Regions from separate parts of the Homo sapiens genome. Here regions 1, 2, 3, 5, 6 and 7 are each reported to be linked to region 4. Evidence: microRNA targets listed by miRTarBase, many of them from high-throughput screens and not tested one by one. Region 4 holds a microRNA gene; each other region holds the end of a gene's coding sequence.

Region 1 (4,068 bases), not on the chromosome of region 4:
CCAAATTAGATATATCCTATTAAACTATCACTTAAACTATTAAATACATGTTTCATTAGATTTAAAAGTTCTTTAACATGGCTGTCAAAAACACTTCAGTTTTATATAGCGAATAAACTGGGAAGTGAAATTGACTCAGGAAAGTAAGATGCATAACTAAATAGACAGAATCAGAAGGAAAGACACCTCTATATTCTTTAGATTAAAGAACACAGGATTCTTAATATTAGAGGAGTGTAAGTATGGGTCACATTTGGATCTCTTTGCACTTTTAAATTAGTGGCCACGTAATTGTAGTCAATTTAAAAACTGCTTTTATAGTCTAACATTTTTCTTTCCTCTTACAGCTGGGAATGGAGGAAGAAGATGTGATTGAAGTTTATCAGGAACAAACGGGGGGTCATTCAACAGTTTAGATATTCTTTTTATTTTTTTTCTTTTCCCTCAATCCTTTTTTATTTTTAAAAATAGTTCTTTTGTAATGTGGTGTTCAAAACGGAATTGAAAACTGGCACCCCATCTCTTTGAAACATCTGGTAATTTGAATTCTAGTGCTCATTATTCATTATTGTTTGTTTTCATTGTGCTGATTTTTGGTGATCAAGCCTCAGTCCCCTTCATATTACCCTCTCCTTTTTAAAAATTACGTGTGCACAGAGAGGTCACCTTTTTCAGGACATTGCATTTTCAGGCTTGTGGTGATAAATAAGATCGACCAATGCAAGTGTTCATAATGACTTTCCAATTGGCCCTGATGTTCTAGCATGTGATTACTTCACTCCTGGACTGTGACTTTCAGTGGGAGATGGAAGTTTTTCAGAGAACTGAACTGTGGAAAAATGACCTTTCCTTAACTTGAAGCTACTTTTAAAATTTGAGGGTCTGGACCAAAAGAAGAGGAATATCAGGTTGAAGTCAAGATGACAGATAAGGTGAGAGTAATGACTAACTCCAAAGATGGCTTCACTGAAGAAAAGGCATTTTAAGATTTTTTAAAAATCTTGTCAGAAGATCCCAGAAAAGTTCTAATTTTCATTAGCAATTAATAAAGCTATACATGCAGAAATGAATACAACAGAACACTGCTCTTTTTGATTTTATTTGTACTTTTTGGCCTGGGATATGGGTTTTAAATGGACATTGTCTGTACCAGCTTCATTAAAATAAACAATATTTGTAAAAATCATACTAATGCTTATTTTATTTTAATTGTATAGAAAGAAAAAAATGCCTAAAATAAGGTTTTCTTGCATAAATACTGGAAATTGCACATGGTACAAATTTTTTCTTCATTACTGTACAGTGATGATGTTAATGACTTTGAAGCACTGAAAGTTACTGAAGTGCCTTCTGAATCAAGGATTTAATTAAGGCCACAATACCTTTTTAATACTCAGTGTTCTGTTTTTTTAAAAACTTGATATTCCTGTATGGTGCATATATGATACAGTTACCTAATCATGTTGAATAAATGGGCATGCCAAAAATTCTTACTGGATTTTTATTGATAATTTCAGTTCTTCCTTTAACAAGGTACAAAGTGGTAAGGTTTGGTATATTTTATGTTTTCCTTTTATTTCTTTATATCTTTTTTTTTTTTTTTTTTTTTTTTGAGACAGAGTCTCACTCTGTCACCCAGGCTGGAGTACAGTGGTGTGATCTTGGCTCGCTGGAACCTCTGCCTCCCGGGTTCAAGTGATTCTTCTGCCTCAGCCTCCTGAGTAGCTGGGACTACTCGGGACTGTGCCACTACGTCTGGCTAATTTTTGTATTTTTAGTAGAGATGGGGTTTCACCATGTTGGCCAGGATGGTCTCGATCGCTTAACCTTGTGATCTGCCTGCCTCGACCTACCAAAGTGCTGGGATTACAGGCGTGAGCCACCGTGCCTGGCCCAGCCTTATTTCTTTTTATCTTAAATATTTAAACTTTGTGTAAAATTAAAATATCAGATTAGTTTGTTCCTATTAGAGGGCTTAACTTTTCCTTTTAATGCTAATGAATCACAGAATTTACATCTATGCATACATACAGTCCAGTTTCATGTTATCTCAAATAGAATGTCATCTAACTACTTGAGAAGACCAAATAAAACCCACTTTGAATGCATTTTATAAACTATTATAGCTTACATACCTACTCAAGTCACCTTTTGAGAAAGAGATTGATTGGCTTGATCTTATAATTCTTATGTTTGACCCTAACTGAAAAATTATTTGTATGGTATAAGTTAGAGCTTTTAGATTGTCACCTGATATTTATCATTATGTTCATTGAACAGTGACTAGGAACTAGGCCCATTTTAAGAAAATCCTCATGAGTTGCGTATTTCTGTCAAGATTGAATAACAGATCTGATTGGGTATTTGAACTATGAATCTGTAGTTTGGTATCTTAATTTTGTTTGCGTCTCTGAATGTCTGAAGACGCTCAGGATTTTGGTGGGACTTAGCTACTGGGGAAGTAATTTTCTTGTTTTTAGTTTTTTGGATTTTTCGAAATGCATTGCACTCTGATATGGTTAACTTAAATGTGTGCTTATCTGGTTAGCAGTGCTGATAAAATAGGCATTTCACAACAAAAATTTTAACAGATTATCAGATTTCTGAAGGGACCTTGAATAACATTTAGGGAAGTCACTCTTATCTGGTGCTTGACTGCAACATCCTAAATCTGTAACAAAAGGGAGAAAATAAAGTCAGCAATGGTAATTTCCCCCACAAGGATGTTATCCTCAAGTGTTTGTTCTGTTGTGGGTTGAATTATTTGAGATGCTCCTTTCTTATCTGATTAAGTAGTATTGAATGAATTGATTGAATGAATGAATGTCCAGGTAGGGTCCACAAGCTTGAGAAAACGTTTATATGACATATTTAAGTTCAGTATGACTGATACTATCTAGTGTTTGACTGTTTTATTTCTGTTTAATTTTTACAAAAAAGGAGTTAAAATAAGTATCAAATCTAAGCACATCTAATAACAGCAATACAGACTACAAATAGGTTGGATTTCTGGGTTGTAAAGGTGTAATTTCTGTAGAAAGCAAATACCTTACAAACATTAATGAGGAATTGGAGGGGATTACTTGCAAATATTAAGCTTTTCATCTGTGGACAGTTAAGTATAGAGTAGGGCCAAAAGAAATTTGTGAAAAAATTCAGTTCAGATGCTCTAGATTTAAATAACATCCTTTTATATAACTTGTATGCTAAAAATATCTTTCTTCATTTTGTTAAAGGGATATTTTATTAAATATTAAAAGAGATGTTAAATATCTAATCAAGTCTCATCCTGGGCCAGGCACAGCGGCTCATGCCTGTAACCCCAGCACTTTGGAAGGCTGAGGTGGGCAGATAACTCGAGCCCAGGATTTTGAGACCAGCCTGAGCATCATGACGAAACCCCATCTGTACTAAAAATATACAAATTAGCCAAGTGTGGTGGTACGTGCCTATAGTCTCAGCTACTTGGGAGGCTGAGGTGGGAGGATTGTTTGAGCCCAGGAGGTCAAAGCTGCAGTGAGCTGTGATGGCGCCACTGCACTCTAGTTTGGACGACAGAGTGAGACCCTGTCTTAAAAAAAAAAAAAAAAAACAAAAAACCGCTGGGTGCGGTGGCTCACGCCTGTAATCCCAGCACTCTGGGAGGCCAAGGTAGGCGGATCACAAGGTCAGGAGATCGAGACCATCCTGGCTAACATGGTGAAACCCCGTCTCTACTAAAAATATAAAAAATTAGCCAGGCATGGTGGCGGGGGCCTGTAGTCTCAGCTACTCGGGAAGCTGAGGCAGAAGAATGGCGTGAACCCGGGAGGCGAAGCTTGCAGTGAGCCGAGATCGTGCCACTGCACTCCAGCCTGGGCGACAGAGCGAGACTCCGTCTCAAAAAAAAAAAAAAAGACATCCTGGTAGAGTCAATGTAATTTTTTCAACTGGGGAAATTTTTGTGGGTGGTTAATTCTTCAGGGCACAGGGGCTAAAACTCAAGATTTATTAATGTTCAGGGCTCTAGAATAATGCTGCCCAATAGAACTTCCTGTCATGGAAATATTCTACATCTGTGCTTTCCAA
Region 2 (4,068 bases), not on the chromosome of region 4:
GAAACAACCTACATTATAAATTTATCAACTACTAATACAAAACACCTGTGGGATATTTAGTTCCCTTTTCATCAGATAAATGGACTGTATGACAATATGAGATTTAAGTAAGTAGAACATCTGAAGAGTCCTTCAGGAGTTTGGGATAAAAGAATATATAAAACACTATATTTGAAAGGAGAATATAAGGTAGCAAGCAACACATCAGATGAATGATGCTTATGTTTCTGGTACAATACTGTTCTTCCCACAACAAACTCCTTCCTTGGCCTGTATCCCACAGATGTTTGCTTTCTTTCTCACTTCATGTAATGATTTCTGGTTTTTTGTTGGTTTTTTTTTTTTCAGATGAGTTTGCAATTGCTGAGTACAATGCTCCTTGCAGCAAAGGTAAGCCACTCACACTCCTCCAAAAGGCAGTCAGAGCTCCTTCAGCTTGCCCCCCAAACCTTCTCCTTCATAAAACGCTGGGTAAATATTTGTCAAAAACATCAAATTACTCACACTGCACATTATTATAGAAAAACACATTTATTGGAGAGGGCCGCTGACTCTGTCAAACCTCAGAGAGTCCATAGGATTGCTTATGGGTAATGATTTGGAATAGATTTGGTTTCCCACTGTACTGATTAGGTTTCCTTGGGCACTATGCTACCCAGAACTAAGGGAAAGAATACTCTCTGCTCATGGAGACCCAAATCTGTCTTAATTTTTTTTCTTTCCAATGTCACAGATCTTGGAAATGCTTGAAGACCACAAGGCTGAAAAGTGCTTTGCTGGAGTCCTGTTCTCAGAGCTCCACAGAAGACACGTGTTTTTGTATCTTTAAAGACTTGATGAATAAACACTTTTTCTGGTCAATGTCTTTCCCTGTTTCCTGTTCATTCAATAAATATCATTGTACATTTCCATATGATTCCCAATAGAATACCAAGATTAAACTTAAAGGAATCAAGTGCTGAAGGACTTCAGAATACAAAAAAATGATACAGTGATGTCGGTCTGAGTAGGCTTCATGTAAGGACTGTGGGGAAAGAAGAAAGTATTGGGTTATGTACTAGGAAAGTGTAAAGTGTGTTTGGTTATGGGAATACCCTATGAAAAACCCAAAGGGTGAATTTTTATGAGAAAATAAAAGACTGACTTCACCAGAAAAGACTTTTTACATTAAAATGAAGTAGAATGAAATACAACATTGAACATGTCATATTGAGAGGCAAGATAATTGGGACTTGACCTGAATTGGGAGTGATGTGTCCTATGTTACACCAAAATCTGCCACTGATGAGAGTGATCAGTCAGTTAACCTGGGGTTTCAGATTCAATAATAGATGAGCTGAAAATAATGAAGGGAGGATTCATGCAGAAGCACGTTTTCTCAGAAGAAGGAATGTGTATGACTCAAAGTCCAAATAGGAGTATTATATTGGATCATCTTTCTTCTGGAACTTTGAGCCAGGATTAAAGGATAGCTGTAAAGTCAAGGAGATATTCTGATGCAGAAATCAGTTCTCACAACATCTGATTGATGTCTGATGTCTCACAACATCTCTTTAGTCTATTTTTAAAATATATAATTTTCTTTGCAGTAAGTATTGCGACATATATTTCCATTCTATAGAAGGGGAAGCAAAACTTCAGGAGTTTTTGAAGTAGGAAAGGTTAAAGCAGGAGGATTGAGCCAAGAGAGTCTGAGGACAATCGTAGGAGTCCTACTCTTCATTTGGCACAAAAATGACAATGCTTAGTTAGGCAGAAGGTGAGTATGGATTGTATAAACTAAGAACTGGAAAAGACTTTGCAGTTCAAGGAATCCTTAGCTCTGTCTCCAGGCTAGACAAAATAAGAAATAAAAGCTATCACTTCTGTGTGGTGCTTATAGAATAGAATTAACATATCAGCATTATGGGATCTTTAGGGTGTCGCTTTCCTGGCCAGTCTAGTGGCACCTTTGCCTGAGTTTTGCTCTGGGCCCACTGGGCTGCTTCTGCCCACTCGCACTTGCTACCAACCTGGATCCCGGATCCAAGGGAGATTGAGACGGGTGGAGCAGAGGGGTGTGCTAGGGGTGTGTGAGCAAGCGTGGCCACTGTGCAGTCACACACACAAGCTGCTGCCCAGGTTGGGCAGCTCCAGGTGCCAGCACAGGCTCTCCATGAGGTGGCTGGACCAGGCACACAACAAACAGCTTCCCCCTGGACCAGGCGCATCACAAGCAGCTTCCAACAGTGGCACTGGCGAATGCAGTGACGCCAACCAGGGCCCCAAAGAGGGAGTCACAGCCCGGGCTCAAGGAGCTCCCAGGTCTGGGCTTCTCCGAGGGCCAGAGCTCTTCTCTCCCTGTGGGGAGCAAGGGGCATGTTGCAGCCCTGTTTGTGTTACAGCTCTTTTAACCTTGCTGTGCAGCTCCTCAGCTCCTGCATCAAGCAGACAAGTGGAGAATGAGACAGATGAAGAGGAGCATTACTGAGCAATGGAACAGAAGGATAAGGAAGATGAAGAGGAAGGAGACCTGCAGTTAGTAGCTCATTTCCACAGTAAGGATGTCCTTTCCACAGCAAGGGTGTCCCAACGAGTGTTCAGCTTCTAGCAGAACGGAGACCCTGGAGTGGCTGGCTCCTCTCTGCAAACAGGTCTTCCCATTGAGTGTTCAGCTTTCAGCAGAGAGGAGGTTCTGGAATGGGTAGTTTCTCTCCACAGGTAGGTCATCCATTGTCTTCCCATCCTCTCTTCCAATCTAGCTGAGTCTGGGGGATTTTATGAGCCTCAGAGGGAGGAAATGCATGCTGATTGGTCCATGGGCAGCCATGAGTGGGCCCAGGGAGCAGCACCACAAGTTACCTCTCTGGTCTGCAGGCTTCAAGCCCTCACCAGCTTGAGGGTGGGACTTCACTGGGGACCCATCCCCTTCCACCCAGGAACCTGTCTGCCTCCTGCTCCCAGGCTGTTCATGCCAAGGAGCGCCTGCAAGTCAGTGTCCAGCTGTCTTCAGACCCCTCTCAGCCTCCCTCCCACGCTTGTTGGTGCCCAAGTTCCAAAGGGGGCCGAGACGGCAGGGGGCTGGCGTATCAGCACTGTCCTGAGCGTGTGCACGCTCGGCCAGGCTGTGACAGTACCCAGGCTCGGCCCGACCTTGCTCTGAGTTCAGAGTGGGTGCTAACAGTGGAGAGAAGCCAGGCAGCCGGAGTAGGCACCCTGGAGCCTGCAGTGGGCAGGGGACTTTGCTGGGCCTCTGAGAGCACAGAAAATGTCCACAGCCGCGGCAAGGTGGCTGCAGCTGCACCCTGGGAGCTCCTGCTCCACCAGTTCGGAAGGGGCGGGGCTCCTGCTTGTCCCTGGCTCACCTGCTCCTGAGTGTGCAGGTCCGGTGGCGCCTCCTTGCAGGCTGGGCTGATGGGCGGGGGCGGGGGGGGGGGGGGGGAGGAAGGGAATGTTCCAGGTCCTCCCTGGGCCCGGGACTGTGTCCGGGGCAGGGATGACGTCGCTGCAAGTTCTTCCCGTGGCCCCGGGGCTCAGGGGCAGCCCAGGACTCTCCCTCGCCCGGCTCACGGCCCTGCCTGGGGGGCGCCTCCGGGAGCAGATCACGAGCCCTGGGGCTCAGCCCTCAGGCGCGTCTAGCTCGGCGGTCACCCCAGTGCCGGGAGGACCCTGAAGACGCGCCCCAGGCGGCCCTACTCAGAGCCTCCTCCCAAGGCCCAGGAATGCGGCGCTGTCGGAGGTGTGCGCGGTGGCCACACCGCTGTCCGGGTCCCCAAAGCGGGCCCCGCTCCCACTTCTCGCCTTGGCCCCGAACCCTGGGTCCAGCCCCAGCGCTTTGTGTGCGAACACCGCTCCGCCCCGGACCCAGCTCCGCCTTGGGGCCCCTCTCTGCCTGCCCCTCCGTGCCCGACTACACTGCTTCCCCTCCGGCGGGCGACTCAGCCCGGTCCATCGTGGCGGCTTCCAGGGCGGCAGGCTCCGGGAGTACTCCCGGGGCCGGCTCCAAGGACTGTTCCCCTCCTCCCCACTCCCACTCCGCGGCGGCGGCGGGCGAGAGCGGCGACATAGGGCCAGGGTCCGGAGCGGTGG
Region 3 (4,068 bases), not on the chromosome of region 4:
TCATGACTTTGCAACATTCCAGTGTCACAAGGTCAGGTGTTTATTCACTGCTTGTGCAGTCAGCACACATTGACTTTGCGTTCGTATCAGAATGTGACACTCCATTTGGTTGGGGTCTGTTTTAAACCTTTACATTTATCTTCCTGAGAAGGAACCATATGTCCAGTTTTTCTGTAACCAAATATCAAAAGACACAGGTGGAACAATTTTATGTCTAAGAATTTCATGAAGAGTGTTTGGAATAATGTAAAAAACTTTTCTTTCCTTTTCAAAGTTCTTTTAGTTGACAAATAATAATTGTACATATTTGTGGGGTACATAGTCACTGCATGTTTTGATACATATATGGTGATGAGATCAGAGTAATTAGCAAGAATCACCTTTGAATTCATATGATCCATACTCTCAGGACATCTGTAGCCTGCGGCTGCTAGAATGACCATCACATTCTTTTCCTTCATGTAGAAGAGAAAAAGCGCCATTGAATTCCCCCTTTGCCTACTATGAAAGCAAAACTTGCAAGTAAGAGGGGAAGGTGTGCATGAGATAAGAGAGCAGAGTTGGGACAACTTTTGTAGGGGCATACAGTCTTCTGGGCTTCTGTGGCTTTGGAAGCCTGTGCCTGAGAATGTTTGAGAGCCCCGGCTTTCTTAAGGGCTCTCTGGGCTGATATTTAGAAGAGATGCTCAGATTTCAAGGGTAGAAGGGAAGAGATTTAGAGTCATTTGTGGCTACTTTTCATGGTCTAGTAGTGCGGCTGTAAGTCATTTCATCATATCTTGATTTCTTGTCCACTTAACAAAAATAAAATGTAGCTAAAGAGTTTACTAAACCTTTGATAAAAATATTATGAATATGAAAAAAATTATGAATTATAACTTCTAGATTTAAGGACAATGAAATTTAAGAAAAAAAAATCCCCACCCATCACTTTAATCCCTTAGATCCAGGTTAAGGCACCCAGCCTGATAGTGAATGTCTGTTGACAACAACTTCTTTGTATTTGAAGACAGTATTGACTACAGATGGTACCAAGGAGTCAAAGTCATGGCAGGCTATCTTGGGAGAAATCTTCCTCATGAAGCAAATTTTCCATTTAAAGATGAAGCATGAAAATCAACATCTATTTTATAGAAAATAGGAAATATTTAATATATATAAATTTATTTGCCTTGGCAATTATTTATTTACAATTGATGATTGATATCAACAATTGAGGTAAAAATATACATGAGGTATAAATATAATATTTAAATGCAATATCATACTTTATTTCCATTGGCAAGATAACAATGAATAAAATACTGTGGTATTTGACAAACAAGCTTGATGCATCGTTTTTTCTCCTTTTTTTCCCTTTTCCTTGTTTTAAAAAGATGCACTGTGTTGTTATGCAGCGGTGATATGATTACTATGTGCACAAAAACAAAAAAGTCAGATAATTCGAAGAGAGGGAGAATCAGAAATACAATCACATTTGTTCTTATTCTGTTTTAGGGATCTTCTAGGTCCTCGTTTCTGAGTGTGGTTTTAGGCCAGCAGCATAGGCATCCCTGAGACTCCTTAGAAATGCAGAATCTCAGGCCCAGCCCAGATTACTTGGAGCAGAGTCTGCAGTTTCACAAGATCCCCAGGCAATTCATGTGCATGTGAAATCTGGACAAGCACCTCTCTGGGCGATACAAAGCCACTCATCCTCGTGTGCCTATCACGTTTTCCAAACACATAGGATCCCATCTCAGGAGCAGGACCAGTGTTTAGCTAGATTAAACTTCACTGGTGATCTTGTTGATGCATATAAAGTAATCTGGCATATATGGTTAAATTCAAGATGTTATGGCAGAAGTGACTTTGTTTTGCTCACAAAGCATTGCCCAAAAGGTAAATTATGGATTTACTGCTTCCTTCTTAGGTAGATATGGGAATGAAAAATTTCTAGGTCATAATTCAAACTGTAAGATTTTCCTCGCACCATACCAAACTCATAGAAAGCTTTTTTATTCCTCTCAATAAAATAATTGCACATTGCTGATAACAGAAACATTACATAAATGCATATAATGCAAAAAAACCTGAAAACACTCATTTGCTTTTCTTTTTTTCTCCAACACCAGTTGCTAAATCTTATCAATCTCTATTATGGATGACCAAAGAAAATCTCTCTCCCTGAAATCAAACACACAATAAGTTATCTTTCTCTCTATAGCTGTTGAATTACAATAAAAAGCACATTCGATCCATTAGCAGTTGGCTAAAGGGAGTCAATTCGCTTCATCTGTACAATAATAAATAAGGTTGGGTCAAATGCATAGGTAGCTTGGACTGGCTAGTGAAGAAACACAGAAGAATTAATAAACCCGATTATACTATCTAAAACTAATCAAAGAACATAGTTTTGGTCTCATGTTAGTTAAAAACCCTGTCTTTCAGATTGTAAAAGTTTAATGAATTACATTTTAAGAGTATCCTACACATAACAAAATATGAATTCCCTGAAGCTGTAACGATCTAGGATTTGAACGGAATGGCCATCATCTCCCTTTGTATGGTGTCTGGAGTTGAATTCAGTGCAATAAGAAAACACCAATTAACTGTGACCAAATAGGCCACTGGTCAAATAGAATGACATTTAATAACATTATGAAATGTATTTATAAAAACTTGAGACAACACAGGGGCTCCCTTTGGCTGTGAAGAAGTAAAGGCTATGATATTCATCTTGACTTGGGGTCTGTAGTGATGGGCATGGGAGCGAGAGGTATCGCTTCTGTTTCAGTCACTCTCGCTGACTCCGGTGGTCCATATCTCACTGAAATTCCATCTTACTGGGCCCAGTGGCAACTCCTCATCTAGCTTTAAATTTGGTAATGACTTCTCACCCCCCCATTTGCTTTAAGGAGGAGTAATTATTATTTCCTTGCTTTATCCCAGATCTCCACTCTCAGTTTTTGAATAGCAGAAACAAAGCGTTAACACATAAGTCTCCTTTAATGTTATTTTCCTTTGGTTAACTCATCTTTGGTTAGGCATCAGGGCATGTTCACACCTTGGTGTTAGCAGCAGGTTCTGCACAGCTTACAGGACAGTGGAGAGATGGGGCCCAGAGCCACTTGGAAAGAACTGTGTGAGGAAGGGACTCACTGAGTCAGACACCGTCATTTTCAAAACACACAATTCTATATAAAATTGGTATTTTACATATATACAGTAAAGATGGAGATATACACACATATGTACATATGCTATACATACATTTATTTACAGTTAGGTATACGCTTCTTAGAAGCCTTTAAATAGCAAATTAGGCAATGCACAAGGAATAGTCCATTTAATTTTAAGTAATATATATAAAGTTCTCATTTTAAAATTATATTAGTAGGGATGTAGCCATCTCCAGGAAGGCTAAGAAAGTTCTTGGAAATTCTTGCATCTCCAACATTCCAACTTCTTAACGTTTCCATTTTTAGGCATTAACCGCGTCCTTCAGTTCCTCTTTCTCTCGCTTTCTCACATGCACACTCTCTGCCACACTCGTCACTTTAGCTTCCTCTTCCCTGAGTTTGATGTCACACTGGGCAAAACTCAGATTTTAGTTTCTGGGCCCTCAGCAATGAGGGGCTGGAAAGAGTTTCTAATCCTGGCAACTTCTGCTGCACACAGATGTCCAAAGCCTTTGCTGTACCATTCTGGGGAGTGACCTCTGTGGGGAAAGAAATCAGAAAGGAAGTGGGAAAGTTTGTTTCCAAATCACAGCAATTAGTTTTGGTGGACAGGGCTGCCCTTGGGCCCCGATGACCAGTGAACCTGCAGACAGCTCGGGCTGCTGCCTTGAGGGGCTCAGGACGTCATTCTGCCATCAGGGGCCTTGAAAACGTCCTGGCTGCTAAGTATTCATGTTGTCATTTGAGTACTCATCAGGTGCTTTAAAATGATACCAACATCTTGGGGTAAAATGAAAAGATTCAGATGAAATCCAGAATTTACTGTGAAAACTCCGTTTTGTCTACCCAGACCAAGAACTGGGTTTAGCATCATGAATGCCTTGAAGGGGTTGGATGTAAGTTACTT
Region 4 (4,068 bases):
TTCAACACTCCAACCCATGGGAGCAGAACGACTTTCAGCTTTCGCAGGGGGATAATCACTGCAAGTCCAGCTTGAAGAGGGTGATTTCAGGATCTACATGAGAATAAGGCGCAATTTTTTTTTTTTTTTTCTGAAAAATACGGAAGGGTTCATTTACAGCTGTTAAAGATGGGCCGGTTTTAGGGCTAAAGCAAGACTCTGGTCAGATGTTAACAACTCAGTTATCCTGGGGAAAAAATAACTGGCTCCCAACCCTTTCCCTTTTCAGCATTTGCAGGAAAAGAAGGAGTAGGTAAAATGCTTTATTTCCTCTCATTCTCCATGGTGGGCAGGAGTTCACATAACAATTATAAACCATCTTTAACAGGAAAGCCAAGTAAATCCTGTAGGGATTTATTTGGAGCTCCCTTTTTGCTAGAAAATGAGTATCATGAACTAAAAATGGACTCGTTTCCTCTCTCTCCATCTTCCTCTCTTTCTTCTCTCCCCTCATCTCCCACCCACCGCCATGGTGGAAAATGACTGTGGTCAAGAAGATTGAACATTTGAGCAAGACCAGATGCCTTTATATCCAATAGATGCCACGGAGAGTAGATCACAACACATCTAACTGCTGTATCCCCATATAAAATAATTTTAATTTTCCTAGACTGCAGAATTGATCACATTTACTGATGATGGATTGGGAAGTAGGTGAAGAGGTGAGAGTTGGAGAGTATCCATTCATTCGGCCAGATTATTCTCATTTATAATGTAGTCTTCCAATAAGTATTTATTTCCAGAAATCTATTCCCTCTAGAGATTCTTTCTCTCTCAGCCATTTTAGAAAATTGTTGCAAACAGAGTTCCTGTCCATTTTCACAGGAAGTTTTTGCAGAAGGGGTTTGCTGGGTGGCAGTGGAACACAGGCAGTGGACCCCTCTACTACTCTACTGTTCCAGAACACAGAAGCCTTTCATTGAGAGTGTTCAGCTCTTCCCATTGCTCAAGATGCTTGTACCCGTGATGCTTCTTTTCTCTGCTTAGGTCACAATATGTGGAGCTGACAAGGTTCCCCTATTATCAGTGACAATGGTGGAATGTGGAGGTGAAGTTAACACCTTCGTGGCTACAGAGTTTCCTTAGCAGAGCTGTGGAGTGTGACAATGGTGTTTGTGTCTAAACTATCAAACGCCATTATCACACTAAATAGCTACTGCTAGGCAATCCTTCCCTCGATAAATGTCTTGGCATCGTTTGCTTTGAGCAAGAAGGTTCATCTGATATCAGTCTTCTCAATCTTGTGTACTTACTGAATAAAGTCTGGCTCTTTTGCACTCATAACCAATATGGTTAGCTGAACCCTGCCTCTCACATGCTGTTGTTACATACCTTAGCTGGTGATTAATTTTCTTGTTTTCCCAAGTCAATAAAAAGATTGCAGACCAGGCACGGTGGCTCACGCCTGAAATCCCAGCACTTTGGGAGGCCAAGGCAGGCGGATCACTTGAGCTCAGGAGTTCAAGTCCAGCCTGGGCAGCATGGTGAAACCGTGTCTCTACAAAAACTACAAAAATTAGCCAGGCATGGTGGCATGTGCCTGTAATCTCAGCTACTTGAGAGGCTGAGGTGGGAGGATCAATTGAGCCCACGAGGTTGAGGCTGTAGTGAGCTGTGATGGTACCACTGCACTCCAGCCTGTGTGACAGAGCAAGATCCTGTCTCAAAAAATGAAAATAAAAAGATTGCAGAGTTCCTCAGAGCCCCCAACACAAGGCCAGGCACGAGGTAATCATTTAACCCATGCTTATAGACTTAAAATGAATAGTTAGGAAAGTGTTAGACGCAGAAGGCTAAGACTGGGCTAAATCTATGTTATGCAGACAGACCGCAAGCTTATAGGTACAAAATTAAGGTGTGTGGGTCCTTCTCTTTTCGTCGTTAAAAAATCCAACTTTCTAATAAACTTACACATGGTTTCACTGACGTTTCAGAAATTCTAGAATATGTTTGATTTCTACTGATTTCAATCAATTACTAGGCTGATTACTGAATTCGTACACTAGGCCTTTCTTCCTCTTGCATCAGTGAATTACCATCAGAAAATTGTTTATGAAGCATGTGTGAGCTGCCATAGCAAATCTGGGACCCATGCAGTTTCTAGGACAGTTGGCCCAGCCAGGTGCTCTGGTTTGGAACCCATTCTGTCTCTGAGAGGTGTCTAAAGTCAGGAGTAGGTTTCGTTTGTGCCAGACTAAAGCTTCCCTCCCCAGGCTTGGTTAAATGAAGTAGGACATGTTTAATCAAATAGACAGGGTTAGATCAACCATCAGAAACAAATTCAACCATTCAACCATTCACTTATGAAATAAATATGTGTAGAGACTACCGTGTGCCTGACACTGTCCTAGGCATTGAAGACACTTTTAAATTAAATGTGTCTGATGTTATTTCCAGAGATGGGCATTCACTGGCTCGCATTATATTTTGGGACCATTGTAATTGTTCCAAACGGGAGCCAAATGAGCAAAACTTTGCGAAATAATTCTGAGTCCCTTGCTGGAAAGCCTCACCTGAATGCAGCCCACACATTTATGATACACTACAAAGGCTTCAAGGTCATGAGATGCCTCTGTCCAAAGAAGAAGAAGAGCACCCCTGCCTGCCCTGCATCTCTTACCACCTCTCATTTCTTCCCTCCTGGCACCATCTACTGTCAAGAAGAGAATCAGACTCCCTGAAATAATTGAGACACTGACATTCCTTTTTGTGTGTATTTTTTTGGCAAAGGCTCTAATTGAACAGGCATTAATAGAGGGCTCTACTGTTATACAGATCACGCTCATGCACACTGTATTAGTCTGTGTTTTCATGCTGCTGACAAAGACATACCCGAGACTGGGAAGAAAAAGAGGTTTAATTGGACTTACAGTTCCACATGGCTAGGGAGACCTCAGAATCATGGCGGGAGATGAAAGGCACTTCTTACGTGGCATCAGCAATAGAAAATGAGGAAAAAGCCAAAGTGGAAACCCCTGATAAACCCATCAGATCTCGTGAGACTTATTCACTATCATGAGAATAGCAGGGGAAAGACTGACCCCCATGATTCAATTACCTTTCCCTGGGTCCCTCCCACAGCACGTGGGAATTCTGTGCGATACAATTGAAGCCGAGATCTGGATGGGGACTCAGCCAAACCATATCACATGCCATTTCATTTGATCCATACAACATGGGGCAAAGATGATCGGTTTGACAAACAGAGTCTAAAGGGTTCTGGAATCGTCTGGTCCTCCAGCCACAACTCAACATGGATCTCTTAAGTCTAAAGTTCTGTCCTGTACCTGCAGCCTCCTTTGGCCTAGTTATTTTGTGAAATCTCATGCTTCACAGTCGAATCTGTGTAGAACCTGGGTTAATCACGCCAGTATGCGATCAATATCCTCATCTCCCCATCTGCTTTGTCAGTGGATTCTGAGGGAAAACCTGTAAATTAGAGAGGGATGAGCCATATAAGAATGTCTCCTTGTGAGTGTTCATTGTGCAGAGAAAGCTGAAAATTGCAAAACCCTGTAATCATGAAATGAAAGAGAAGGAACATCTAAGTGGTAGCTTTGGGGTCAGGAAGAGGGTAGACAAACTGTCCCAACACCAAGCAGCCATCTACATGACCCAGCCACCTGATGTGGCACCAAATGACCCAGAGTCTTGAGGTTCTGAACTGTTCCCAGACTCGGGGACAATGTGAGGACTGGGTCTTCCATGCTCCTTTTCACTCCCACTCACCCTGAGATTTTTCTCAGGTGGAATTAAACAGGGAGCCAAGTGAATAGCATTCTGTGTCTTTTCTGCTAGGTTGGCTCATTTAATGGCTTATTATGATTGCTGCCTGGATTCGTTTTGCATTCGGGATTGGAGACCTGTCATTTCTGTAGATCTCTAAGGAACACACATAGAAGGCAAAGCTTCCCTCTCCCCTTTCTACCTCTAATTACAATCCTGCTGCTCCAAATCTCTGATGATGGCATCTTCCCAGACCAGCTTTTATCTCCCCTTCCCTCCCCAGGATGATTACTGCCAGTCATT
Region 5 (4,068 bases), not on the chromosome of region 4:
AAAACAGGAGGTGCCTGAAGGAGGCTGAGAAGAGGTTTGCAGCTTCTACTGTCCTTGATAGGGGAGGGGAGGGGAGACTGCATGCCATCTGATATTCAATTCCTCAACCATACTGGCAATTTGTTTTGGCTAGAACATTTAAAAGTGTAATAGCTCCACTGGGTTTCCTTATTCCACTTCTCAGATTTCAGAAAATCTTTATAATTCCTGAGTAGTTGCAGTGAGTGTGTAGAAAGACACCATCATCAACATAAGGATTCAAAAGGCAACTGTTGGGCAGTAGGACCATCACCTATGACCTCTGGGCCCCCACCGTCATCATAAACATCCACTTCTGCTTGGCCACACTTTTTCTTATTTCTTTTTCCCCAGTAAGCTGCCACTTATTGAGATAAAAGCCATACAGCACACCTCCTAACCTGGTTTTTGATACTTCATGGGCCTGATGCTTTTTTTTTTGAAACGGAGTCTCACTGTCGCCCAGGCTGGAGTGCAGTGGTGCTATCTCGGCTAGCTGCAAGCTCCACCTCCTGGGTTCACGCCATTCTCCTGCCTCAGCCTCCCGAGTAGCTGGGACTACAGGCGCCCACCACCACGCCCGGCTAATTTTTTGTATTTTTAGTAGAGATGGGGTTTCACCGTGTTAGCCAGGATGGTCTCAATCTCCTGACCTCGTGATCCGCCCCCGCTTGGCCTCCCAAAGTGCTGGGATTATAGGCATGAGCCACCACGCCCGGCCCGGGCCTGATGCTTTTTACCTAACGTGTCTGTAGTGTAATTTATGATGTACTTTGTGTAATTTATGTAACTTATGATATTGTGTGCTCTGATGCTGTCAATTGCTCATGCAAGAATCTGAACTACTGTCAAACTGTGTCCTCAGATTTAATGAATATTGTCTAAGAGGAGACAAAGTTGTTTGTAAGTTAAGGGTTCTTAGAGTTACTACTAAGTCAGGTGTGTCTGGTTAGATGCAGCATAGCAAACTGGTTACTCTCCTTTCTAGTTCAGGGAGGGCTATGCCTAGAACAGCCACTTAAAGCCTGCTGGCAGGATGTGCTTAAGCTGCCAAATGGCATCCCGATCACCTCCTCTCCAGGAAAAGTTCAGATCCTCCTGCTACACTGAACACAAGCTCAACAGCATTTTAGAGGGATCATTTTCAAGGCCTCCAGATTATTTTAGATGAACTTCCTTGAACAAATTGTCATTGACCTTTACTGAGCATCAATTTGAGTTAAAAATGAAGGCTGTGTCAGCAACGTGGTACATTGGTGGACTTGGGAGGGGGCATCCCAGATACATGATGCAGGGTTCAGAATAGGTGAGAATAATGAAGATTCTGCCATGGTGTCTTACAACACTAACATCATACATCGACTAGTGTGACAAAACCACTAGGTTTCCCCAACCGAGGCAGGCAAACCTTGCTTTGTAGAAATAGGTATTTTACTGCAAAGTTTTAGTCTGTTCACTAGGATGAAATCCAAAGTGGGCTGTATTTGTCTAACTCTCAAATTAAGTGTTCTCACTCATTATTCTTCAGCACTGGTTCCTGAAGGGTTACGTGGCCACAGTGGCAGCCCTGCTTACCTTCACTGATTTCTCGTAAGCATCCTACTTACAGACCAAAGTGGACTGCAATGAGTACACCTCAAACCTCCCGCTGCTCTCACCATCAAGCCTATAAGGATTGAGACTTCTGCTGGCCCCACATAACTCAAAAGAGCTGAATTATATGGCATGGGTAAAACTGGCACTTTTCTTGTGCATGATAACACTAGAAGGAGCATACAATGGTTATAAGTGGAATCAGTTTTTAATTGATCCGTTCTTTTGGTTGTCTTCAGAGTTAAGTGAAAATGAAGAGAAACTATGTAAGAAAGCAGCATAAAAAGCTTCTTGCTCACAAGCAACTTCAAGCCTTTTTAGTCATGCATGTTCCTTCTCGGCTTTTCTGTTTTGCTTGTCTCGTTCCTTCATTGTGAATTTTAAAAATCCAACCATGTTACCATATTCCTTTCAGTTGCACCAGTAGAAAAGGCGGTTAGCACCTGCATGAATATGGCTTCTGTGACTTGATTTGATCCTGACTGCAGTCTTCATTCTCGAAGCTGACATTAGATTAGGATATGGTGCTGCTTTCATTACTGGATCTATTATAGAAGCATTCCTGAGGGGCTGCTGGCTGGCAGGCATATCCTGGGAAGATGCTCAGGCACCTGGCAAGTCCAGGGGTTCTGGAAAGATGCTGGGGCAAGGGGCAGGCCACATGTGGAGGCTGGATCAGGAAGGAATTTAAGATTTCTGCTCATCTCTGGACTGTCCTCCACCAATTGGGGGGAGAAAGCTCGGCCTCTTCAAGGCCTAAAAATGAGTCTTTGATCATATTGTCCATTCATCTCCAGTCCTCTTTCTTCACCCCTCACAAGATTTCAGAGACGTGGCTTAAAGACAAAAGTGTCAGAGAGGTCAAAGGTGGTTTCCTTATGTGACTCAAGAGCCAGGGTCAGAAAGAGCTGCCTGTGAACAATATTCCACTTGGAAGTTTTCTATTAATGTAATTACTTTCATTTTGATGTAAGGAACCTTTTTTCTGCCCTTCAGTTTTTTTGACATTAAAGAGTCCTGCTTCATCCTACTTCACATGCCTATCAGCCAAGGTCATGAGCAGGTGCTGTGAGTTGCATTTGCTCTCCTGTCTGGAAACTGCCTCCTGGGGATGGGGGTCGTCCAGCTGCACAGTCACAGCACATAACGTAGAACTCGGCTGCGTATCAACACAACATTGCCCATTCATGAACGGTCCAAAATGTAAAAGGTGCTCTGCCGCTGGGTCTCTTGTCCAAGCACACCCAAGGCTGTGCTTGCTCAGGTATTACATTTTCTCCTGGGAGTTGGGGTGCAGAATCTCTGCTGGCCCAGAAAAACCACAAAGGACCGATGTAAAAACAAGAATGGGCCTCACTTAACAACTGATGTCAACTCCTTGCATGGTAACTTGTTCTCCAGGATGAAGTTTATGGCTATTTGTCTCCCTCTCTCCACCCAGGTATGATTCTGTTTTTTCTCCTTTTCATCACGTAAACCATAACAACAAAAAATCATTTTTTTAGTCTGGATAATACATGTTCTTGGACCTCTTCAAGAATAGTTTTGGTGAGTTGCAACATTATTGGAGAGAAAGATGCTGCAGGATTTTGCTGCAACAGGATCAAAACTAAGACCAATAATCAAAACAGCAGTGTGTAACGACAAAGACTTGAACTCTCCCAAGGCAACTGTCCTCAATGATCTTTTCTCTCTTCTGTGACAATGTGACATATATCAAGCTTTGGTTATAAAGCTGGAAATCTCAGCTTTTAAAAAAATTTTGGAAACATTTTGGTATTTCTTCTGCTCTTAGAGTGGACTTTGGGCTTCCACAAGAAACAGTCATCAAATATTTCTGCAATGTTCCCTTAAATAGTTTTCCATTGTTCCTGCGGCTTAATGAGGGACTTCTTAAAGAAGGCATGGGGCACTCTCTGCAGATGACCTCAGAAAGAGATGAGCAAAAACAAACATTTAGTGACACATCTTTCAAGAACGTCCTGCAACCCTGTGGTCACAAAGAGTATGCGTGCAAGGTCCTCCACCTCCAGTGCCATCATTTCCATGTGTCTTCATCTTAGTTAGTGGTCACACTGGCTTCCTTCTGACGCAGTCTTTCTTTCTGTTAAGGAAAAAAAAATGAATGTATCATTTTCTTTCATCTTTCTCAAGTTTTGATACATTTCTCAAATTTTGGTCTAGAATGCTGAGTTTCCGGAATTGTGCCAAATGGCCTAGAAATGAGAGTACCTCTACTGCTTTCCCTAAGCTCTTAGTTATCTGCCCCTCCCTACCTATCACCCTTACTCCCCAGAAAAACAAACAAGAAATCAATAACCAGCCAATCTACCAACTACATCCATCTAAAACACGGGCCTTTACCATGCCAGGGTGGTCTTTTCTGTTCTCTTCTTTTGTGACAAAGACCCTAACTTTGTAGTGTTACTCAAGGACCCCTTCCGTCCCTACCTTTGG
Region 6 (4,060 bases), not on the chromosome of region 4:
CCAAAAATACAAAAACTTAGCTGGGTGTGGTGGCCTGTGCCTGTAGTTGCAGCTACTCAGGAGGCTGAGGCAGGAGAATTGCTTGAACCCAGGAGGCAGAGGTTGCAGTGAGTTGTCTACCAGTCCCACGGCATTAGCACTCGTCCCAATCCAGTACAACCTCAACTTGATTGCATCTGCAAAGGCCCCGTCTCCAAATCACATCACATTCACACTTAACAGGGGTTAAGACCACAAGGTGTCTTCTCTGGGGAACATAACCTGTAACATTTTTCTAAGGTCACATATCTAATAGGTGGGAGAGCCTGGCCTCCAGCTCGACTCATCCTCACTCTAGAATCTGGGCTCTCTTAGTCATTGGTACACACTTCTGTTTCATAGGGAAGGAGGCTGAGGCTAGGAGGACTTGCCTGACTTAGAGCCTATACCCCTAAGCCTTGGGCTCGTGGCCCCCGTCCTCTACCTGAGCAACTTGGAGCCCAGAGGGATGACAGGATTCGTCCCAGCTCCCAGAGAGGAGCCTGGCTGGGCTGGCTTCTTTGTCCTCTCTCCTTTCCCCGCATGGGGCCCTGACTTTATTGTTTCCGCCCCTGCCGCCATCCTCCCTGTCCCAAGTTCCTCGTCTATCCCTACGGGATCCCCGCCCCCTTTCATGTTCTGACGTCCATTTTCTTTTGTCTCCATCCAGGATTCCCCTCTAAAGACCCTCATGTCCCACTATGAGGAGGCCATGGGACTGTCGGGACGGAAGCTCTCCTTCTTCTTTGATGGGACAAAGCTTTCAGGCAGGGAGCTGCCAGCTGACCTGGGCATGGAATCTGGGGACCTCATTGAGGTCTGGGGCTGACACCCCACTCCCTGTTTGACGGCCCAGCCTGGACTTGGGGAGAATGACTTTCCCTTTTTTGCCCCATAAGGGCTAGCATAAGCTGAGGTAGAACTTATCTTTAAGCTGCAGCAAAATCAAGGAGTGACTTTTGTCCCCTCTCCTGTTGACCCTGGTTTAGAGCCGTTAACCACTTGGTGAGTTATGTGGGTGTTGTTGCCCTGGGTGGCCTGTGGCTCCGTCCACAAGTCATGCTGAGTTTTGCAGCCTCTGTGACTTGGAGATGTCCCTTCACCCCTCCCCTTTCACCACCATCCTCTTTTCCTCATGGAAATGTCTGCTTTATGAAACTATGCACATATTGAAAGTGAGTTGAAACAAATGAGGGTTGGGTAGGAGCTTCCAGGCCTGGGATTTACACCACGCCTAGCCCAGCAGAGGCCTTAGTCCCATTTGGGGCTTGGGAGTGACATTTGCTTGAGGCTTATACACTGGTGTGGTTGCCTGGCTTGCAGGAAATGACCAAGCTCACACATGCTGGCTGAAGCGTAAGCAGACAACTGAGGTACTCTTTTGAAGGATGAAGGTGGTGGATTCTCAGCCCTGGGGGTCTTCCTCACCTGAGGACCCTTCAGAGCCACCCTTTCTAGTTTGCATTTCCTGGTGCACACATTTAAGGCATAACAGCACATTCATCCCTTTGGTTTGGGATCTCAGGAATACAGTCCCATGCAAAGATTCTCTGGTTTTATGGCTTTTTTCCCTTTCTTTACACCATCCTCTCCCATAAGCACCCATGTCTTTGAATATGAATGTATTTGTAAAATACCACGTTTCATGTGTGAATATGTGCTTTTACTGTACATAGTGCTATTGTGCAATAGGTCTTATGCTGTTTTCACTCAATGTGTGCTAAGATCTAGCCCCATTGACTCTTCTAGAAATGCAGTATTGCTTTGACCTGCCATGTGGCACTCCACAATGTCAATTGCAGTTTACACACATTGCCTAAAGTGGGGGACACCTGGGTGCCCCTGACCCCTTGGCACCGGATACAGGCCACGATAAACATCCTTTCGTGTGTTCCCTTCTGTGCTTGTGTGGCATGTGTACCCAGGATGGGCCTATAGGTCACAGAGGTCAGTTTCTCTTTGGTTTTCCAGATTTTCTTTAGAACGGTGACTGACCCTCCTACTTGAGGCCGCCCTTTTCTCCTTATCCTTGCCAGCACTTGTATTGCCAGACTACCTAATTTTTGCCAGTCTCATGGGTAGATAGTGGTGCAGTGCTTTAACATACATTCATCTGATCAGCATTAATTTGGGGAATTTTTTCACTTAGCCTTTCTGGTTTCCCTTCCTGTGCATTGCCCATTTTCTCATGGAGTTTCTTATCTTTTTTGGTTTATTCTCAGGAGTTGCTTGTACATTCTTGGGCAATTGCAGATAATTCCAAGAATGCATATTTGGGCTGGGTATGGAGGTTCACTGGTAATCCCAGCACTTTGGGAGGCCCAGGCAGAAGGATCGCTGCAGCCCAGGAGTTCGAGACTAGCCTGGGCAACATAGCGAGACCTCGTCTCTACAAAAAAAAATTAAAAAGGGGGCTTTGGGAGGCCAAGGCGGGCAGATCATGAGGGCAGGAGATTGAGACCCTCCTGGCCAACATGGTGAAACCCCGTCTCTACTAAAATACAAAAAATTAGCTGGGCATGGTGGCGCACACCTGTAGTCCCAGCTACTCTGGAGGCTGAGGCAGGGGAATCGCTTAAACCCAGGAGGCGGAGATTGCAGTGAGCCAAGGTTCCACCACTGCACTCCAGCCTGGCGACAGAGCAAGGCTCCACTCAAAAAAAAGATTTAAAGGGGAAAAAATTGAAATTTTCTTTGTATCTAGGGGTATCCGTCACTGAACAGAAATTCTTAATTTTGGCTAGGCGTGATGGCTCAGGTCTGTAATCCCAGCACTTTCGGTGGCCGGGGTGGGTGGATCACTTGAGGCCAGGAGTTCAAGACCACCCTGACCAACTTGGTGAAATCCCATCTCTACTAAAAATACAAAAATTAGCTGGGTGCAGTGGCGCATGCTTGTAATCCCAGCTACTCAGGAGGCAGAGGCAGGAGAATCACTTGAACCCGGGAGGTGGAGGCTGCAGTGAACAGAGACAGTGCCACTGCACATCAGCCTGAGTGACAGAGAGACTTTGTCTCAAAAAAAAAAGAAAATTTTAATTTTAATGTAGACAGTATGAATTATCTTGTTCTGCAGTTGGTTGCTTTTTGATTGCTTATTTAATAGAGTTGTTAAGATATTTTACATCTTCTCCTGTTAGCTGTTCAGCTTTTCCTTTCATATTGAGAACACTACACAGTGCTGAAGTCCAGCTGGTACACACCGGGGTGACACCTTGGCTGCATCTGTTCTCAACAGTCAGACACTTCTTCTAATTGGTTGATGCTGGGCTGTACTGGTTGCTAAATATTGCACATCATTTTAAAACTATTTGAGATGCACTTTTGTACTCAGGAGGCCAAGGCAGGAGGATTGCTTGAGCCCAGGAGTTTGAGACCAGCCTGGGCAACACAGCGAGACCTTGTCTCTTAAAAAAAAAAAAAAAAAAAAATGAGAGAAATCGGCTGGGCATGGTTTCTCATGCCTGTAATCCCAGAACTTTGGGAGGCTGAGGCAGGTGGATCACCGGAGGTTAGGAATTCAAGACTGAAACCTTGTCTCTACTGAAAATACAAAAAAAAAAAAAAAAAAAAATGAGCTAGGTGTGGTGGCAGGCGCCTGTAATCCCAGTTACTTCGGGAGGCTGAGGCAGGAGAATCGCTTGAACCCAGGAGGCAGAGGTTGCAGTGAGCCAAGATCGCGCCATTGCACTCCAGCCTGGGCGACAAGAGTGGAAACTCTGTCTCAAAAAAAAAAAAAAAAATTCAGTGAAATACACCTTTATATATGAGATCCAAGTTTCACTTTTTGTGATATAATGAGCCAGTTTTCTCAGTAATGTCTACTAAAAAAAAAGCCATTAACCTTTCTCTAATATTTGCATGATTCTAATAAAAGTATGTCAACTTCTTAAAATGTTTTATTGAAATGTGGCATTCCTTTGAATTTTATGACATTAAAATAATCCACGACATGGTACAGCTCTTCACTTTTTCAGCTTTTTAAATGTCCATTAATAAGTTTGAATACGTTAAAATTATATGTTTAACCTCAACAAAATAA
Region 7 (4,068 bases), not on the chromosome of region 4:
AAGTCTGGTGCCTAATTGAAAATACCCTTCTAGGAACAGCAGAATTTTTTGACCTTAGTTTTTGAGTGAATTAATGAACAAAATGAAGTGATATCAGTATTGACTTGTAGAGAAGAGAGAGTGTCTGTGCCCATATATTAAAAAATATTTTCTATTACAGTTCCTTTTTGCCTAGTTATATTTGAGCATTTCAGACATATGCATAAGGCATTAAACCTTGCTTGGGAGAAGCTCTGAATCCTTTGAGGGCAGGTGTGACAAATGGTCTTTCCTGTGACAGGGGTAGATAGCGCCATCTTGGAAATGCAAGCACAGGGCTTGGAGGGTTGATAAGGGGAATTCTTAATTCTGACTGTAGCTATAATAAGAGATAATTTAATGTGTTAATTAATTCAACATTTAATCTAAAATAGCTAGCAAATAGATTTTTCTGGTGCTAGAATCTTACCCTGACGCACATTTTTTATTTTTGTGTTTTCTGTTTCAGAGACGCCCAAGCAGATGGCCTGCGATGAAGTTTAGAAGAGGCTCTGGACATCCTGCCTATGCTGAAGTTGAACCAGTTGGAGAGAAAGAAGGCTTTATTGTATCAGAGCAGTGCTAAAATTTCTAGGACAGAACAACACCAGTACTGGTTTACAGGTGTTAAGACTAAAATTTTGCCTATACCTTTAAGACAAACAAACAAACACACACACAAACAAGCTCTAAGCTGCTGTAGCCTGAAGAAGACAAGATTTCTGGACAAGCTCAGCCCAGGAAACAAAGGGTAAACAAAAAACTAAAACTTATACAAGATACCATTTACACTGAACATAGAATTCCCTAGTGGAATGTCATCTATAGTTCACTCGGAACATCTCCCGTGGACTTATCTGAAGTATGACAAGATTATAATGCTTTTGGCTTAGGTGCAGGGTTGCAAAGGGATCAGAAAAAAAAAATCATAATAAAGCTTTAGTTCATGAGGGATCGACACCTTTGGTTCAAATGTTCTCTGATGTCTCAAAGATAACTGTTTTCCAAAGCCTGAACCCTTTCACTCAAAAGAGCAATGATGAATGTCTCAAGATTGCTAAGAAAAACAGCCCATGCAAGAGTGAGAACAAACACAAAATAAGAGATTTTCTACATTTTCAAAACAGATGTGTGGCAAAAGGATGTTGTTTTTCTGGTCTAGATCCATCTGTACCAACAAGTTCATCACTTTACAGAACGAATCTTTTTATCCGTACAGGAGGTTCAAACCATGTCTGCCTCTTCCTTTGTAATGAATGACCTTTCTATGAGCTGTGACAAAATTTCCGAACAATTAACTAAGGATTTGGGAAGAGGGGGTGGCAAACGGGGCTTTCTGTTTTCCTGCCTCAGCATGAAAACATCTGATTTATGCTTTATGGAAGCCTTACCTCCAATCCCCAACTGTTAAGTCCCATGAAACCACAGTTGCTCTGGGCTGATGGAAACAAAAGGAAACAGTATGAAGAGTTCCTTAATCATTTTTGAAACAAAAATGTTAAGGGATTTTAAACATATGATTATTTTTAATTTTATGCCTTTTCAGTACTAAACACCCATTTCATTGCTGATTCCTGTCTAAGAAGCCATTCACGTCAGCATGGCGATAGAAAGAATGAAAAAACCCTGCTGAATCATACAGTAATTTTCTTTAAAGCACATAGTAGTTACATAAATATATATATATAAATATATTTTTGTTTATAACTAACACAAGGCAGGATCTTGTGACTCTAAGAGTGCGTTTTGTCATCAAGGCAAAACAGATGCAAGATGCATCACTGCATTACTTCCATAGAGTTGTAAAATAATCCTTAATATTAGAATATTTTTCTGTCACTTAGCAAAAGTGGTTCAGTTCATTGCCGCGCCCATCATGTTCTTGACTATTTGATCCACTTTTTCGTTTATGTCAACCCCTTCCCTCTCTGGCTAAATAAAGTGGATGCAGAAAGCTCCTTAAATGGAGATATCGATTGCCTTGGAATCACAATCCTGATTTTGAAAATTCCTCATGAATGAAGAAAGGAATGGCATCCCTTGAGAAGGAAAGTGGTTAATATACATACTGAGCTCCTAAAGTTTAAATTCAGGTACTGAGTGTACAATTTCACCAACATTCTAACCCATGAAACTTTTACACTCTGTGCCAAGAAACTGTTGGCTTTTGTAAGGTACAGTGCTCAACATTTGCAGATTCAGGTCTCAAGAAGCAGAGATGTCTCATAAGCAGCATTTTCCCAACAGTTTAGCATCTGTACACATCTGCCTTGGTCATCAGTCCACTCACAGAGTACCATACTTTATCATCACAAGTGTCTGACGTGAACGAATGCCATTTTCTATTCCATATATTTTGCTTTACAATTTTAAGTATTTGATGAAGATGGTAACTTTTTCCTAACTTAGTTAACTATTAAAAAAAATTTTGAAAAGCAAGGTGATTGAAGGATTGTGATGACAATCTCTTTGCAGCAGCTATGTATGGTTTATGTGAAGTATCCCCACTTATTCTTGTGGAGCAGGTTTGGTGAGACAGCAATAACCAAATGACATGCCAATATTACTGGTGCAACTGGTATTCTACAAATGCATAAGGAACACATAGACGACTTCCTTTTAGGATAAAATGATGCTTCTTTCACTACCTTTTGTGGTAGCTGTGGCTTCCAATAGCAACTGTTTGACAGTTATATAAATCTTGCATGTGTATTCTTAGTTTGTGTCCCTTAAGTACTACTTAATTCTCAAGTAGTAATGTTATTCTTATACCCTTCAGCGTTCTATTTTGATTCAAAACAATTGATTCAAAACAATTTTGAATCAATTTTCTATTTTGATTCAAAACAATTGATAATTCTGTAAAAAAACATAAACACTGAATTCTTCAGTGAACCAAAGCAACAAATAATAGAGAAAACTTCTTGAAACTGGAGTGTGGGAAAACTTCTTAACAGAACTAAGAGTTAAAGGTAGTGAGAAGTGTGTGGTGTGTGAATTCTTTAGTGGTAAGGGGAAATGTGGGCTAAATCCTTTTCTTTCATGAAACTCTCATTCTATTTTATATTTCTGGTTTGTTCTTGTTCCCATGTGAGAAAACATACAGTTTCTGAAAATTCAAAATGGTCATCAATGCTTTGGACTTTACATAATTATGTATTAGAGAAGGTGCAACTGTACATTACTTAATATACTATGAACATAATAGAATAACAAAAAAAGATAACAAAGAGATGCAAACTTCTGGATAAATCAGATAAATGGTGCTACAGAGGAATTTAGTTATTTCAGCTTAATTATTTGTAAAAATAATAATCAGTGACTAGGTAAAGATACTGAAACTCAAGAAAAATATCTTGACCCATTTATGTCTAGTGTTCCATTATTGGAACGCTAAGCTTATGGGAGTTATTTAGAGCCTACTGCTCAAGGTCATCACCAAGGTCTGGTTGCAAAAATTCAAAAAATTGCAACCTCAGGCATAAATGGCTTAAGCCCAAGAGATGGCACTGACCATAAATGGTGGCTTGTGTGTGAAGGGTTTGGACTTCAAGATATACTAACACCTAGAAAACTAAAAGTGCAATTGACCCCCAATTACTATTTTAGTTTGAGGTATCAAGGGCATTTGCCAATCTCTTATATGTAGCTTCTAGAGTTGTGCTGTCCAATATTATATCCACTAGCCAACGTGGCTTTTGAAATTAAAATTAATTAAAATTAAATTAAAAATGTAATTCTTCAGTCACACCAGCCACATTTCAAAGGCTCAATAGCCACGCCTGGCTTGTGGCTACCATATTGGATAACAAGAAACACTTCCGTGGTTGAAGAAAATTTTAATGGACAATGCTGTGTTTCATTTGAATTCGTTGTCCTTGAAGAAAAGGGAAGAAGAGGAAAGAAACAAGATTTGGTAGCTCTTGGGCATATCCAAGCATTTTTGATTTTAGAGAGGCCCTATGGAGTAATGAAAAAAATACAAGCTGACACAGCTTTAAATCCCCACTGTGTTATCTTGGGAAAATCACTTCAACCTCCTTGAGTCTC

The links. Region 4 holds the annotated microRNA hsa-miR-122-5p (UGGAGUGUGACAAUGGUGUUUG, at 1,134-1,155, shown strand). A microRNA usually pairs through its seed, bases 2 to 8, with sites in the 3' UTR of a target mRNA and lowers its output. Matches are read on the target gene's strand: a 7mer-m8 pairs with bases 2 to 8, a 7mer-A1 pairs with bases 2 to 7 and ends in A, and an 8mer does both.
Region 1: miRTarBase lists SUMO1 as a target of hsa-miR-122-5p. The part of its 3' UTR that is shown has no 7-base or 8-base seed match.
Region 2: miRTarBase lists A2M as a target of hsa-miR-122-5p. The part of its 3' UTR that is shown has no 7-base or 8-base seed match.
Region 3: the mRNA of STARD13 is a reported target of hsa-miR-122-5p. The part of its 3' UTR that is shown has no 7-base or 8-base seed match.
Region 5: miRTarBase lists FMN1 as a target of hsa-miR-122-5p. Seed matches in the 3' UTR shown: 7mer-A1 at 487-493.
Region 6: miRTarBase lists NFATC2IP as a target of hsa-miR-122-5p. Seed matches in the 3' UTR shown: 7mer-A1 at 1,799-1,805, 7mer-A1 at 2,641-2,647 and 7mer-A1 at 3,707-3,713.
Region 7: miRTarBase lists PLXDC2 as a target of hsa-miR-122-5p. The part of its 3' UTR that is shown has no 7-base or 8-base seed match.

The regions. Positions count from the first base shown.
Region 1 is chr2:202,203,601-202,207,668 of GRCh38, reverse strand. It overlaps SUMO1 (small ubiquitin like modifier 1), which reads left to right. Exons shown (of 5, transcript NM_003352.8): 5 at 348-1,487. The coding sequence ends at 416. KIAA2012 reads right to left here. Exons shown (of 24, transcript NM_001277372.4): 24 at 2,481-2,671. Among named protein-coding and RNA genes, the nearest start is that of SUMO1, 33 kb to the left of the region's middle.
Region 2 is chr12:9,064,505-9,068,572 of GRCh38, reverse strand. A2M (alpha-2-macroglobulin) reads left to right here. Exons shown (of 36, transcript NM_000014.6): 35 at 349-390; 36 at 734-865. The coding sequence ends at 750. LINC00612 (long intergenic non-protein coding RNA 612) reads left to right here and starts at 3,503. Exons shown (of 3, transcript NR_034140.1): 1 at 3,503-4,068. It overlaps A2M-AS1 (A2M antisense RNA 1), which reads right to left and starts at 3,396. Exons shown (of 2, transcript NR_137425.1): 1 at 3,345-3,396; 2 at 518-2,747. It also overlaps a transcript of KLRG1 not described here. RefSeq lists a silencer at 4,008-4,057.
Region 3 is chr13:33,102,011-33,106,078 of GRCh38, forward strand. STARD13 (StAR related lipid transfer domain containing 13) reads right to left here. Exons shown (of 14, transcript NM_178006.4): 14 at 1,127-3,700. The coding sequence ends at 3,583. Among named protein-coding and RNA genes, the nearest start is that of KL, 88 kb to the left of the region's middle.
Region 4 is chr18:58,449,955-58,454,022 of GRCh38, forward strand. MIR122 (microRNA 122) reads left to right here and starts at 1,120; the gene lies at 1,120-1,204. MIR122HG (MIR122 host gene) reads left to right here. Exons shown (of 3, transcript NR_170245.1): 3 at 865-1,327. MIR3591 (microRNA 3591) reads right to left here and starts at 1,198; the gene lies at 1,126-1,198.
Region 5 is chr15:32,770,640-32,774,707 of GRCh38, forward strand. FMN1 (formin 1) reads right to left here. Exons shown (of 21, transcript NM_001277313.2): 21 at 1-3,715. The coding sequence ends at 3,671. Among named protein-coding and RNA genes, the nearest start is that of GREM1-AS1, 54 kb to the left of the region's middle. RefSeq lists an enhancer at 2,929-4,068.
Region 6 is chr16:28,963,017-28,967,076 of GRCh38, forward strand. It overlaps NFATC2IP (nuclear factor of activated T cells 2 interacting protein), which reads left to right. Exons shown (of 8, transcript NM_032815.4): 8 at 689-4,060. The coding sequence ends at 847. It overlaps NFATC2IP-AS1 (NFATC2IP antisense RNA 1), which reads right to left and starts at 3,428. Exons shown (of 2, transcript NR_186408.1): 1 at 3,400-3,428.
Region 7 is chr10:20,279,216-20,283,283 of GRCh38, forward strand. PLXDC2 (plexin domain containing 2) reads left to right here. Exons shown (of 14, transcript NM_032812.9): 14 at 488-4,068. The coding sequence ends at 604. Among named protein-coding and RNA genes, the nearest start is that of MIR4675, 270 kb to the right of the region's middle.